Homo sapiens: one gene and its partner. The protein of the gene in region 2 interacts with the protein of the main gene of each other region in a biochemical or structural test. Each region holds a gene or a part of one and is shown on either strand. Other genes may lie near its edges.

Region 1 (6,835 bases), on a different chromosome or scaffold from region 2:
GGCAAATGAAACTATGTGCATTATGGTGTTGGCCTAAATCAAGAAAATGTTGATTAATCTTATATAAGGGTTGCATCTGAATCATGTGCTAAATGATATGTTTCAGTACTGTCCTGTTAGCATTACAGTAATGCTGTTGATAAGTTACTTAATCTTTATAGGCTTCCAAAGTCCCATCTATAGAATAGTGTTAAAGTCACTTCCCTGTCTGTAGACCTGCAGCCAGCCAGCCTGACATGAATGTTTAATAACATTATGAACACTGAATATATGGAGATATGACCTTTCAAGGTAAAAACTTCAGTGCAAACACAAGGTGTTAAAAGTCATAAATAGTAAAATAATATGATTAATTACAAGGCTAATGTCTTATGGAAAGGCAGCAAGGAAGAGACTACCGTATCACTGAGTGACTATTAGAGTGATTTGCATACTTTGTCTCACTCATCCTCCGCCCAAAGCCTTAAGAATATTATCTCCCTTTATAGATGCGAAAAAGTACTTTTCCTAAGTTTATACTGCTAGTAAATGGCAAAGGCAGATTAAGAACAGTGAAACAGCTGACCCCAAACCCTAGGCTCTTTTCTACCCCAAGCTACTTTCAGATTTAAATCATGTCTATAATTCATCAGAATGCTTTCCATTATCTCAAGTCCTGAGCGAATGTGATTGTGGGAATGCTGTCTCAGATCTTTGCATTGTTCGGGTATCTAGCTGGCTTTCACTCTTGTCATACTATTGTCTTTAAATTTTGAAGGCAAGGTATCTTGATTTTTGTCTGTAAGCACTTAAAGGATTTAATAGATTACATTTATGCAGACTGTCAATCTTAAGAAATTTGAACATTTTAACCCTCAGTAAGGCATGATATTAATTTTACTAAAACACTTAAAAAGTAAATTGAAACACTTTTTACTAAATCAGTTTGCTCCTTATTAGCACACTTTTTAAAGACAGTTTTAATCAGTTTTGTACTAACTTTAATGTTTGCCATTTACATCCCTATCTACTATGTTGATAAAATCCATATACTGGCCAGGTGCAGTGGCTCGTGTCTGTAATCCCAGCACTTTGGGAGACTAAGTCAGGAGGATCATTTGTGGCCAGGTGTTTGAGACCAGCCTGGAGAATATAGCAAAACCCCATCTCTACAAAAACTAAAAGATATTAGCCAGGTATGGTGGCATGCATCTGCAGTCCCACCTACTCAAGAGGCTGAAGTGGGAAGACACTTGAGCCCAGGAGATCAGGGCTACGGTGAGCTACAGTTGTACCACTGTACGCCAGCCTGGGTGACAGAGACTCTGTCTTTAAAAATAAATAAATAAATAAATCCATATACTTCCATTTCTGTTTCAATAGCTATATAGTAATCAGTTTGCATGGAGTTGTTTTTCTTTTTTTTTTTGAGACGGAGTCTCGCTCTGTCTCCCAGGCTGGAGTGCAGTGGTGCAATCTCTGCTCACTGCAAGCTCCGCCTACCAGGTTCACGCCATTCTCCTGCCTCAGCCTCCCGAGTAGCTGGGACTACAGGCGCCCACCACGGCGCCCACCACCACGCCCAGCTAATTTTTTCTATTTTTTTAGTAGAGATGGGGTTTCACCGTGTTAGCCAGGATGGTCTTGATCTCCTGACTTCGTGATCTGCCTGCCTGGGTCTCCCAAAGTGCTGTGATTACAGGTGTGAGCCACCGTGCCCAGCCTGCATGGAGTTTATGATTCCACTTCCTGTTTGGGGGCATATGAGTTGTCTCTGTTTTTGTTTTTTTTTGTTTTTTTTTTTTTTTTTTTTTACCATGAATAAAGTTTACAAGAACTTGTTAAAAGCTTAAAGGAAGGGCCAGAGATGGTGGCTCATGCCTGTAACCCAGGGCTTTGGGAGGCTGAGGTGGGAGGATCACTTGAGCTCAGAAGTTCAAGGACCAGCCTGGGCAACATAGTGAGACTTTGCCTCTAAAAATAAATAAATAAAGGTTAATGGAAGAATCCAAAAGAAGTTCATGCTAAACATAACTCCATATGACCAAGCAATAAGGTTAAGTGAAGAAAGACATGGAAAGTGCCTTGACCTGAAGGTCATCTTAAATGGCCTTCTCCCCGCTTATACTCCAAATACCATTACTGAAACGTAGATCTATTTAAGCTTTCATGTGCTAGTTACTGGGTTAGACAATAGTGGGGAGCAAAACAGAAATAGTAGCCCAGCCCCCAGGGACATCCAGACTCGTGGGGGCAAAGGCATTTGTGAACAGGTCTCATGAGTGTTGTGGAAACACTTCAAAGCAGTTTTTATATTGTACAGTAAAGACATCGGACCCCATGGCTGCTCAAACAAGTGAATCTACAGAGGTGATTAAGTTCTAATTTAGGTTTGTTTTTTTTTTTAAGACACAGCCTTACTCTGTCACCCAGGCTGGAGTGCAGTGGCACGATCTCAGCTCACTGCAATCTCTGCCCCCCTGGGTCCAAGCAATTCTCATGCCTCAGCCTCCCAAGTAGCTGGGACTACAGGCGTGTACCACCACACCTGGCTAATTTTTGTATTTTTAGTAGAGACGGCATTTTACCATGTTGGCTAGGCTTGTTTTGAATGCCTGACCTCAGGTGATCCACCTGCCTCAGCCTCCCAAAATGTTGGGATTACAGGCGTGAGCCACCACACCTTGCTTAATTTAGGTTTTCTGTCATCCAAAATTTGTGCAGTCAATTTACTAGCCTTTCAGATTTAAAAACCACAAACATCACAATAAGTACTTAAGCACCCACAGTAGCCAGACTACTAAGGCCATGGTTATTGTATTTTTGGAGTACATGCCAGAAGAAAAGGTCATAACCCATAGATAGGTATCTAGTGTGTAGGTGTCAGCAGACACACCACACACAGCCAGGAAGGCTGAAGAGATTAGAATCACAACGCTGGGAAAGGCCTTTGAGATTCTTAGCTTGGGGTCCACGGTTGTACTTCAGGGACCCCAGAAACTCCCTGAGGTTATAAGCAAAATTGTATCGCTGCCTTTTTTCTTCAGAAAGGCTCATGGCTTTTGTCAAATTCTCAAAGGAGACTGTGACCTAAATAAAATATTTTTTAAAAATGGTTACGAGTCCTTGATCTAATTCCAGTATCTAGAGAAAATGGGAGCTATGTTTGGCTCACACAGTAAATTTATGGCAGAGACGGGTATTAAAGCCCCACTCGTGACTACATCTGTGCTTTTTGCCATCCTGGGCGCTAGAGGGAATTGCGCTGCAATTCATTAAATTGCCTCTCAGTCTCAACAGATGACAAACCCCTTGCCCTTGCCTCTGATTTAAGGTAAGATAATTTGGGCTGCGAGCAGGGTGCATCTTGGAGCGGGGAGACCTTGACATCAAACAGGAAGAGTCTTACCGGGACAAGGAGACAACAGCCCAGAGAGGCTGTCACCCAGGGTAGGTGTGCAGTCACAGTGAGGTCCCAAGGACTAAGGGCTATGACCCTAAGAGTCTCGGCTTCTGTGTAACTCACCCAAGTCACTTCCCTGGTCTACGACCCAGTTTCCCAAATGTGTAAAGGGTCCTTTAGACCTCGCCCTAAAAGGTCAGGGGCGTGGCTTAAAGAGGACCGCGCTTCCCGGGCCCCGACCCCAGACCCTACATCGTGTGTGACGCCCGCCGCCGCCGAGCAAGCCGCAGTGAGGTCATCGCCCTCCGCCTCGGGGGCGGGACCCTGGCGTCTCAGGGCGGGGCTTGTGGTCGAGCTTCGCGGTGCCACCGCCCCGCCCACGCCTCCTCGCCGGCCTCCGAGTGCGTCACGTGACGGGTCGGTGGCGCTGGCGGTTGCTGTCAGCTGATTCCCGGGGTTGGTGGCAGCGGCGGTAGCAGCAATGGACTTTCTCCTGGGGAACCCGTTCAGCTCTCCAGTGGGACAGCGCATCGGTGAGTCCCTGGAGCCCCCCACAGCTCCGCCCCGGTGCTCCGCACCCAGCTTCGGTCCCCTGGGAAGCCTCCGGGTGCCTAGTCACGGAGGCAGGGAGGGCAAGGAGGCTGGCGTGTAGCTCTCCGACCTGGCTCCGCCCAGCTTTCCTCCCACTCTTGATTGACAAGAACTTGGGCCATTAGGAAGCCTTGGCTTGTGATAGATGTATATGACAGCCAGTAGGTAAGGAGAGAGGGTGGGTCCGGATGCCCACGGCGCAGCCAATGTGCGTCTGCTGGGGTCCCCAATCGAGGGAGAAAGTTTTCGTGGTTAAAGGGACTGCGTGGTTGGCAGTGGCTGGGCCACTCTGCTGGGTCCCGCCGCCTGGGCTCTGGCCAGCTCCTTCCTGGCTCACCGGGCCCTCCGGACACAGACACCTGAGAAGGGCTAGAAGTCCCTTCTCCCAGGACCGCGAAGCCCCGGGCTTGGCGTCTTGGGGCCAACTGGCCAGAGGGGCCCAGCGCCGGACAGCCCGCGGCCAGGCCTCACAGACCCGGGTCTCAGGACGTGTCCGCCTGGGCTCTTTTCTCGACCCAACCTCAAATGGACCCGCACAGACTCTCAGAACCTGAGCAGACAGTGGTCGGACAAACCCTCCTGGTCAGCCCATCTCGGTGCTCCGTAGGTGGGGCAGCCGGGAACTCGGGCCAAGCCAAGCCCAGGGCACCTGGCGCCTGTCTGCTGGTCCGTGGTTCTCTGCACCCTGGTGACAGGATACTCACAGTTCTGTGACGCAGCCTCCCTGGGCCGAGGTTTCCTCACCTGTAGTTGGCGGGCAATAATGGTCCCCACCTCCGTGGGCTTGTTGTGAAGATTAAATTCCTTAATAAATGTGAAATACTTAGAACAATGCCTGGTACATGGCCAGTGCCATATAAAAAAAAACAGTTGTAATATTTATTATCACTGGGCTGGGCACGGTGGCTCCCGCCTGTAATCCCAGCACTTTGGGAGGCCAAGGCGGGCAGATCGCTTGAGCCCAGGAGTTCGAGACCAGCCTGGGCAACATGGCGAGACCCCGTCTCTACAAAAAAAAAAAAAAAAAAAAATACAGAAATTAGCCGGGCGTGGTGGTGCGTGCCTGTGCACCCAGCCACTCGGTAGGCAGAGCTGGGAGGATTTATTGGATCTGGGAGGTCAGGGCTGCAGTGAGCCCTGATGGCGCCACTGTACTCCAGCCTGGACGACGCAGGGAGAGCCCATCTCTTGAAACACATACACATACACACACACACACGCACACATATATATAAAAATATACACATACAAACATACATATACATACACATACATATATATTATATGTATTTACACACACACGTTGTTCCTGAGATCACCAAGTGAAGGTTAGGAATCCCTGGAAATCGCTTGGCAGTAGATCTCATAGGTGCTCATTCTTGGGCACCAACACCATGAGAACCGACATGCCTTCACCCAAACAGCCACACTTCTCCGGAGGATGGTTTGGGTGTTCCGCATTCTTGCATGAAGAAACCATCGCATTACCGTGAAATTACTCTTCATCTTTTTTGATGACGACTTTTCGTCTTAAGTCCAGACTGGGAAAACTTTAAGATGAGACATATTTTCCATTCTTAGTGTCTTGCGAAACCTCACGAAAGCTTGTCGACCCGGCTCTGTGTTGTAATCGCCACCGTGGCTGTCGGTGGCTCTTCCGAGGTTTTGTAATCAATGCTCTCCAAGGGGGAGGTGGCAGTCCAGGATTTACACACCAGGAAGCTCCTGAACCAGGGAGAGGAACTGCCCTCTCAAAGGACCCCTGCCCTCCCCGGACACACACCCACCCCACAGTGAGTCATGGTTTTTTGGAGCTGAAAAGAGAAGGCAGCTCTCCTCTCATCTATATTTCTCTGACTACAGAAACCACTGCTTTTATCACATGCCAAGTTTAAGACTTACTACTTAAAAATAAACAAGTAAATAAAAGACCTGGCTTCAAAGTCAGCCACATACTCTTAAGGCTTTCTGGAAAAGCTCACCTGGGTTCTGGATTTCAGCTAATCAAAGCAAACTTCTCTTCTTACCTTGAAGCGTTGCCTTTCTTGGGCAAGAAATACTTCTGTGCAAAGAGAATGCTACTAAATCATAATACCTTAAAGCACAAATGGAATTTTGCAGGTAAAAGAGCCTTACCTTGGGGATCTTCTAACCCAGTGGTTCTCATCAGAATTCCTAGGAGGGCTTGTTAAATAATGTCGGGGCCCCAACCCCAGAGTTTCTGACTCTCCAGGTCTGCGGTGGGACTCTAGAATGTGAATTTCTTTTTTTTTCTTTTTCTTTTTCTTTTTCTTTTTTTTTTTTTTTTTTTTTTGAGACTGCGTTTCGCTCTTGTTGCCCAGGCTGGGGTGCAATGGCACCATCTTGGCTCACTGCAACTTCCGCCTCCCGGGTTCAAGCGATTCTCCTGCCTCAGCCTCCCAAGGTAGCCGGGATTACAGGCACGCTCCGCCACACCCGACTAATTTTGTATTTTTAATAGAGATGGGGTTTCTCCATGTTGGCCAGGCTGGTCTCAAACCTGAACAGGTGACCCACCCACCTCAGCCTCCCAAAGTACTGGGATTACAGGCATGACCACCGTGTCCGGCCTAGAATGTGAATTTCTGTTGAGTTCCCGGGTAATGCTAATGCTGTTCCAGCCCATCCCCTTCATTTTACACTGGCGGAGACTAAGGTCCAGAGAGGGGAAAGTGGAGGCTGTGACTCATCCAAGACCCCAGTAAATTGACAGCAAAACTGAGTCATTGAAATTTAAACCAAAGCTGAAGAGGCTCCAAAAGTAGAATTAAGAGTTTGAGTTAATCCCCTCAGTATTCCATATTCTTTTAGATAAAGAGGCGGAGGAAGTACTGCTCCCTG
Region 2 (6,883 bases):
AAAGTAAGACCTGAAAGTATAAAACTACTAGAAGAAAACACAGGAAAAACACTTAAGGACACTGGTCTAGGCGAAGATTTTATGGCTAAGATCTTAAAAGCACAGGCAATAAAAACAAAATAGACAAATGGGACTATATTAAACTAAAAAGTTTCTGCACAGCAAAGGGAATTATCAGCAGAGTGAGGAGACAACCTGCTGAATGGGAGAAAATATTTGCGAAGTATTCATCCAACAAGGGACTAATATCCAGAATATACAAACAACTCAACAGTAAAAAATCAAAAAATCCCACTTAAAAGTGGGCAAAGGACATGAATAGACATTTTTTTTTTTTTTTGAGAAAGAGTCTTGCTCTGTCGCCCAGGCTGGAGTGCAGTGGCATGATCTCAGCTCACTGCAACCTCTGCCTGCCAGGTTCAAGCAATTCTCCTTCCTTAGCCTCCCAAGTAGCTGGGATTACAGGCATGTGCCACCACGCCAGGCTATTTTTTTTTTTTTTTTTTTGTATTTTTAGAAGAGACAGGGTTTCACCATGTTGGCCAGGCTGGTCTTGAACTCATGACCTCAAGTGATCCACCTACCTTGGCCTCCCAAAGTGTTGGGATTACAGGCATGAGCCACCACGCCCAGCCTGTATGTCTTCTTTTTAGAAATTTGTAGGCACTCTTAATACATTTAGACTAACTCTGTCATATATATTGAAAGTGTTTTCTTTTTGTCATTAACCTTTTATTGAGATAAAACTTACATACATACATCAGAATGCACAAATCATAAGTTTACAATCATGTGAGTTTTGATAAATTTACACATTGGTATAACCACTCCATCCCAATCAAGGTATATAATCTTTCTACCACCCCAGAAAGTTCCCTCATGGTCCTGTCTAGTCAATCTCCAGTCCCTCACTTCCAACACACATAGATAACCACTGTTCTGAAATACATCGCCATATCATTTTGCAAGAAATTTCAATTGACATATAATTTTTTTTCTGTTAGCACTTTAAAGATGTCACTCCATTCACATGACTTACCTTCTTTCCAATGAGAAGTCTGCTATTCTAATCTTCATTCTTCTGGATGTAATGTGTCATTTTCCTCTGTCTGCTTTTAAGAGTTTCTCCTTGCTTTCTGTTATCAGCAGTGTGAATATGACCTGACTAAGTGTTTTGTTTATTTGTTTGGAATCCATTGCTTCCTAAATATTTTGTTTGGTGCCTACCATTAACTTGGAGAATTATTGGCCATTATTTCTTCAGATTTTCTGCCTCATTCTCCTTTTTTCTTCTGGAATTCTAATAATGCTTAAGTCAGATCACGTGGCTGTAAGCTTAGTGGCTTAAAACAACACACACTTATCTCAGAGTTTTTGTGGGGTAGGAGTTCAGGCACAGCTTAGCTGGCTTATTCTTGGGTCTTACGAGGCTATAATTAAGTTGTCAGCTGGGTTGCATTCTCATCTGGAGGCTTGACTGGGGAAGGATCAAAGCCCCCTCAGATTCCTGGCAGAATTTGTTTCCTTGAAGTTGTAGGAATTATGGCACCTCGCCTCTTCAAAGCCAGCAGCTGAGAGACCCTTGAGAATAAGTCTGAGAGCAAGATGGAGTCTTTTATAACATCAGGTAATCATGGGAGGGACATCCCATCACCACTGCCATATTCTGTTGTTTAAAAGCAAGCCACAGGCTCTGTCCACCCTCAAGACAAGAGGATTATTCAAGGATGTGAACACCAGGAGGCAGGGATCATATGTCTACCTTACAACCTGTCCACCCCATAGGGGAATAATATTAAGGCAAGAGCTGAATCTAGTGTTTAGCGGAGGTCCTGGTGGGAGATACAGATTTTAGGATCATCAGCATATGGATGGCATTTAAAGGAATGGAACTGGATGAGCTCACTGAGGATGTAGATAGAAAAGATGTGCAAGGACTGAGCCCTGAGGTAAGGCACTCCGATGTTAAGGAGTCAAAGTGTTACCAGTGTGCCCTGGCATCTTGTAATCTCCCAGGATAGAAATAAAGAGAGATCAGCAGACATAGCAGCGAGGAGAAAGAGAAATCTTTATTTAGCTTGTGCACAAGGAAGTCAGCACCATGAAAGGAAAACGGTGGGGGGCCCCGCCGCCAGGGGGTGGCACGTGGGTTAGTTTCACAGGGAAGGGATTGGTCCAGGCATGGATAGGAGGGGTTTGTCTAGTGCTTCTCAGTAGCTTTGCATGCTTCTTCATGCATTGCATGCAACATTCACATTTTAAATCTCTACCCCTAGGTGTGATTTTTAGCGTGAAAATGAGGAAGGGGTAACAATAGTTGAAGTATAAGTCTAACTGCACATGTGGGGCCCGGGGAAGTCCCTAGGCCCCCAAAGCAGGAACTTGTGGTTAATAGCTTCTTGGGTCTTGTGCTGTGGATTGGCTGGATGTTAAGCTACAACTTGAGGAAGGGGCTTTCGTTCTTTTTCTCTACACCCCATCAAAACAGGCAAGCGGCCAGGCTGCCGGTTTTAAAAGGAGAGACTGGTAACCGAGACCCAAAGATGTGGTCTTTGGGATAAGAGGAAAGTGAGAGCACATGGTGTCCTGGATGGGGAGTGAAGAAAGCATGTGTAGCAAGAATGACTATCGATTTTGCTGTAGTTCCCGGAGGACGAGGACTGAGAACTGACCACTAACAATATAGAGATCACTGACAAAGAGTTTTTAGTGGAGTGGTTGTGTTACCGGAAAAGGGTCCTGATCCAGACCCCAAAAGAGGATTCGTGGATCTTGTGGAAGAAAGAATTCCAGGCCAGTCCACAGAGTAAAGTGAAAGCAAGTTTATTAAGGCAGTGAAGGAATAAAAGAATGGCTACTCCATAGAGCAGGGTGTTCCCAAAAGCACGAGGAGGAAGGCGTCCACCTGGGTACGCTTGTTTATATGTAAGATAAAAGCCAAAAAACATCACGGGGGAGACGTGCTGTACTACCTGGGCTCGTCAAAGGATTGCCAATCTTTGCATAACGCCTGTCCTCCGCAAGCATCTGTATCATTATCTTTAAAGCGAAACTTCAACTAAGAATGCTTCTTGTTCTTAAGATACCCGGACATCGGGACCTAAGTTCCGGGTCTGCTGCGTAAAAGTTTATTAACCTGTTCCCGTGACCGTAAACGCCCGACTCCTGGGGATGCAGCCAGCGGGGTTCAGCCTCAGTTTACCCAGCGCTGTTCGAGCTGGAGTCGCTCTGGTTGGAGCGCCTGACCGCGAGGGCCGAGGTCAGGCCGGACTGGGGTTCTCCGGAGCGAGCAGGAGAGGAGCGGGGCTCCTGCGGAGCGGCGCGGCGGGGAGGCCGAGGGCAGGGCGGGCTCGAGCTCGGGCTCTTCTGGCAGCGCCTCCATCCCCGTTCCGTTCACCCGGCAGCCGCCCCGTGGAGGAACCGCGCCCCATCTTTAGCCCTGTGAAACAGAAAGGCCCTTCCTCCGGCAGGCAGCTGAGGGAAAGATCGCCCTGCAGGGGATGTCGGGCCTGTCACTGCTTTGTTGCGGGCCACAGTTCCCTCCCTTCTCCGAGCGGGTCGCACGTCCGAAGGTCACCCCCGCCAGGTGGCTAGGCCCTGTCGCCACTCGACAGAGGACCGAGGAGGAACCAACCCACTGCCCAGACTGCAGCGCCGCCACGCTAGGGCCCGCGCCGACAACCGTCATGACTGGGCATGCGCAAACGGCCCCGCCGGGAGCCATTTCGCCGGGCTGCAGGGCTCGAGGAGAGAGCAGGTGCGCAGGCGCCGGGCGAGAGGCTGCGCCTGCCCTACCCTGGAGCGCGCGTGCGCGCGAGAGCCGGAAGGGGCGGTGCCTGGCGCGGCGCCTGCGCAGTGGGGCGGTGCCGGGGGCGGGGCGCGGCGGCTGTCAGCTGACTGTGGCGGCGGCGGCCTCGAGGTGACAACTGTCTCCGTCGCAGGCTCCGGCGGGGGCGCAGGAGGTCGCCCGGCGCGTCACTGTCGGGTCGGCGAGCCACGGGGGCCGCCGCAGCACCATGGCGACCACCGTCAGCACTCAGCGCGGGCCGGTGAGGCAGCCGGGCGAGGGTCGGGCGGGGGCGGTGACCTGCGGTTGCGGGCGGGGCCTTGGGTCAGGGCTACTGCTCAGCTGCGGCTGGCGGGCCGACTCCGCGGCTCTCCCGGGGCACGCGGGGCGCCTGGCCGGCCGGAGGGGAGCGGCGGCGTCCACACCTCGGGGCGGGGCGGGCCGGACGGACGCGCCCACGCTGCAGGAGGCTTGAGCTCACCGCCGTGCCGGGGCAGAGCTTTGGGGAGGCAGCCCCGGGGGAGGGGGCCTGCGCCCGTTGTGAGCCCCAGATGGAGGCGGGCCCCGTGCCCCATGGTGCCCCAGAGGGAGGCAGGCCCCGCTCCCCAATGGTCTCCAGATGGAGGAGGGCCCGGTGCCCAGATGGAGGCGGCCCCGAGCTCTGACTCCCGAATGGAGGAGGGCCCCGCACCCTAATGGTCCCCCAGGTGGAGGCGGGCCCTGAACCCTAATGGTCCCCTAGATGGATGCGGGCCCTGCTCCCTGATGGCCCCCCAGGTGGAGGCGGGTCCCGCACCCTGATGGCACCCTAGATGGAGGCGGGCCCCGCACCCTGATGGCCCCCCCAGGTGGAGGCGGGTCCCGCACCCTGATGGCCCCCCAGGTGGAGGCGGGCCTGCACTCTAGTTGGTCCCATAGATGATGGCTGTTTCCTCTTTCTCATTTACACAGAGTGAGGGCAGTGGTGACCACTTCTTGGGCCCAATTGTGTCCCCGGTTAGTGGCCACCGTGCAAAACCTCAGTTTCTTCATTTGCAAATGAGAGGATAGGCGCCAGGAACTTCAGAGAACCTTTCCTGCTCTGAATTCTCTCCTGAGAGTTGCCTGGCAGTTTCTTCTATAGCATTAATATTGCAGGAGAGCTGGTGTAGACTGACTCAGAGATGATGGGCTCCTGGCGTGAGTGGCCTCCTGGCTCACTGTTAGGGCCTTCTTGCATTGCTGTAAAGGAATACCGAGACTGGGTAATTTGTAAGAAAAGAGATTTAATTGGCTCCCGGTTCTGCAGGCTGTACAGGTAGCATGGTGCCGGCATCTGCTCCTGGGGAGGCCTCTGGAAGCTCCCAGTCATGGCGGAAGGCCAAGTGGGAGCTTACACGTCACATGGCGAAAGCAGCAAGAGAGTTGGGGGTGGGGAGGTGCCACACACTGTAATGACCAGATCTTGTGAGAACTCACTATCACCGGGACAGCACCAAGCCACGAGGGATCTGTCCCTGTGACCCACACACCCACCCTGCCAGGCCCCACCTCCAACATTGGGGATCATAATTCAGCGTGAGATTTGGCGGGGACACAGATTCAAACCGTGTCACTCACTGAGGCTGGGCTGGGGCAGGCTGTCGTGAGCGGTACAGTTTTTATCAACAGTGGCTCTGAACATGCCGTGGGTGGAAAAAGTCCTTTTTCACGATGCTCCAAGGTCCCTGCCCTCGCGCAGCCCAGTACTGGACGTGGTGGAGGGGTCACCAGGGCTCCCCACCCTTAACACTGTATCCACAAGTCCTGGTGTTTCTCCCGAGGAGATAATTCTTCAGGTAGAACATTTTTTCTGAGTTTAGAATGAAGCCCCAGGTTTTGGGCATAGCTGCTTTTTCTGAGGACTTTGAAGGAAACCTCCTGACACTTATGAGACTCAGGTGTGGAGCCTACGGGTCGGCAGAGGTCCTGGACGGCCTCTGATGGCAGCGTCTCTACCTCTTCATCTTTACTCCACCACAGTGAGTCCCCGCAAGTTGCCGTGGCAGCCAAGTGCTCCTTTCTGCCTAACAGGAGACTCAGAGCAACAAGGGAACCAGCACCCTGCTGTTGTGTCCTCCTGGAGAGCAGGGGGGCATGGTGGCCAGGCAGGATGGCCCCTTCCTTGCTGTGTGGTCTGGGAGACATCCTCTGCCTCCTGGGAACTTGTTCCTCATCTGGAACCCCACTGGGGTGTAGGACTGATTTTGAATGCATCAGGTGCTGAGCAGGCAGGGAGCAGTGGGAGGCAGGCCCTTCCTGTTCTGAGGGGCACCGGCGTGCAGCGCTGTTACACCCGCGATGAGGAAGTGGGAGCGGCAGGAGATGTTCTCACACGCAGGGCCTGTGCTGGCAAGTGCTGAGGTGTCGTTAGAATCTCCTCTTGCCCAGTGCCTCCTGGGCTGTTTCCATCATGTAGACGAGCAGGTATTTCAGGGGCACCCCCGTTGACCGGTAAACGCATAGTAACATGAGGTCTGGCTCGGAGCTGCCAGGGTCTCTTAAGAAGGTGTTGTCAGCGACGGGGGTCTCAGGTGTTGCTTGGAGTACATGTGACTTAATCAACCAGCGCTACCAACTGTGGCGTTCAGGATGGCCATGATGCAGGGGACAACCAGGTGGTTCCTGCCACTGGGGTCTTCCAGGGCAGCACGGTAGACATGGCAGCACATAAGGACAGCTGAGCTGTGTGGTGACGGCCCGGTGGGTCTGTGATCTTAAGCGTCAGGTGCTGGGAGAGTTTGTAAATGGGCCTCACCAGGGCTGGGTGTTGGGGTGAGGACGTGACATCTCTCGGAGGAGGAATGGGAGTAGGGGTTGGGCTGGGAGGGCAGGGCACGGAAAGAGAGGTGTGGGGTCTGGAGGTGGAGAGGAGGGAGCCCCAGGGGCCGAGGATGGAGGGAGGCAGGAGCTGGAGGCCGCCGGAGGGTCCTGGGCACAGGAGGACTGGACTTGCCCTGGAGTTTACCGGCTCAGCGCAGCACTCTGTAAAGTGTTGCCTGGCACACGCAAGGCAGGGCCCGCCTTGGCACCAGCCTGCTTCGCTGAGCATGACCCACCCCAGCCCCTCTGAATTAA

What was found. Proteins that work in one complex are often made in the same cells at the same time.
Region 1: the proteins of TOLLIP (region 2) and TOM1 form a complex in vitro, tested with the Homo sapiens proteins (3 studies listed by BioGRID and IntAct, with this or other methods).

Annotation. Positions count from the first base shown.
Region 1 is NC_000022.11:35,296,066-35,302,900, forward strand, and holds the start of TOM1 (target of Myb1 membrane trafficking protein), read left to right. Parts: upstream 1-3,828; 5' UTR 3,829-3,863; coding exon 3,864-3,915; intron 3,916-6,835.
Region 2 is NC_000011.10:1,306,632-1,313,514, reverse strand, and holds the start of TOLLIP (toll-interacting protein), read left to right. Parts: upstream 1-3,882; 5' UTR 3,883-4,016; coding exon 4,017-4,049; intron 4,050-6,883. UniProt on the Homo sapiens protein: Component of the signaling pathway of IL-1 and Toll-like receptors. Inhibits cell activation by microbial products. Recruits IRAK1 to the IL-1 receptor complex. Inhibits IRAK1 phosphorylation and kinase activity.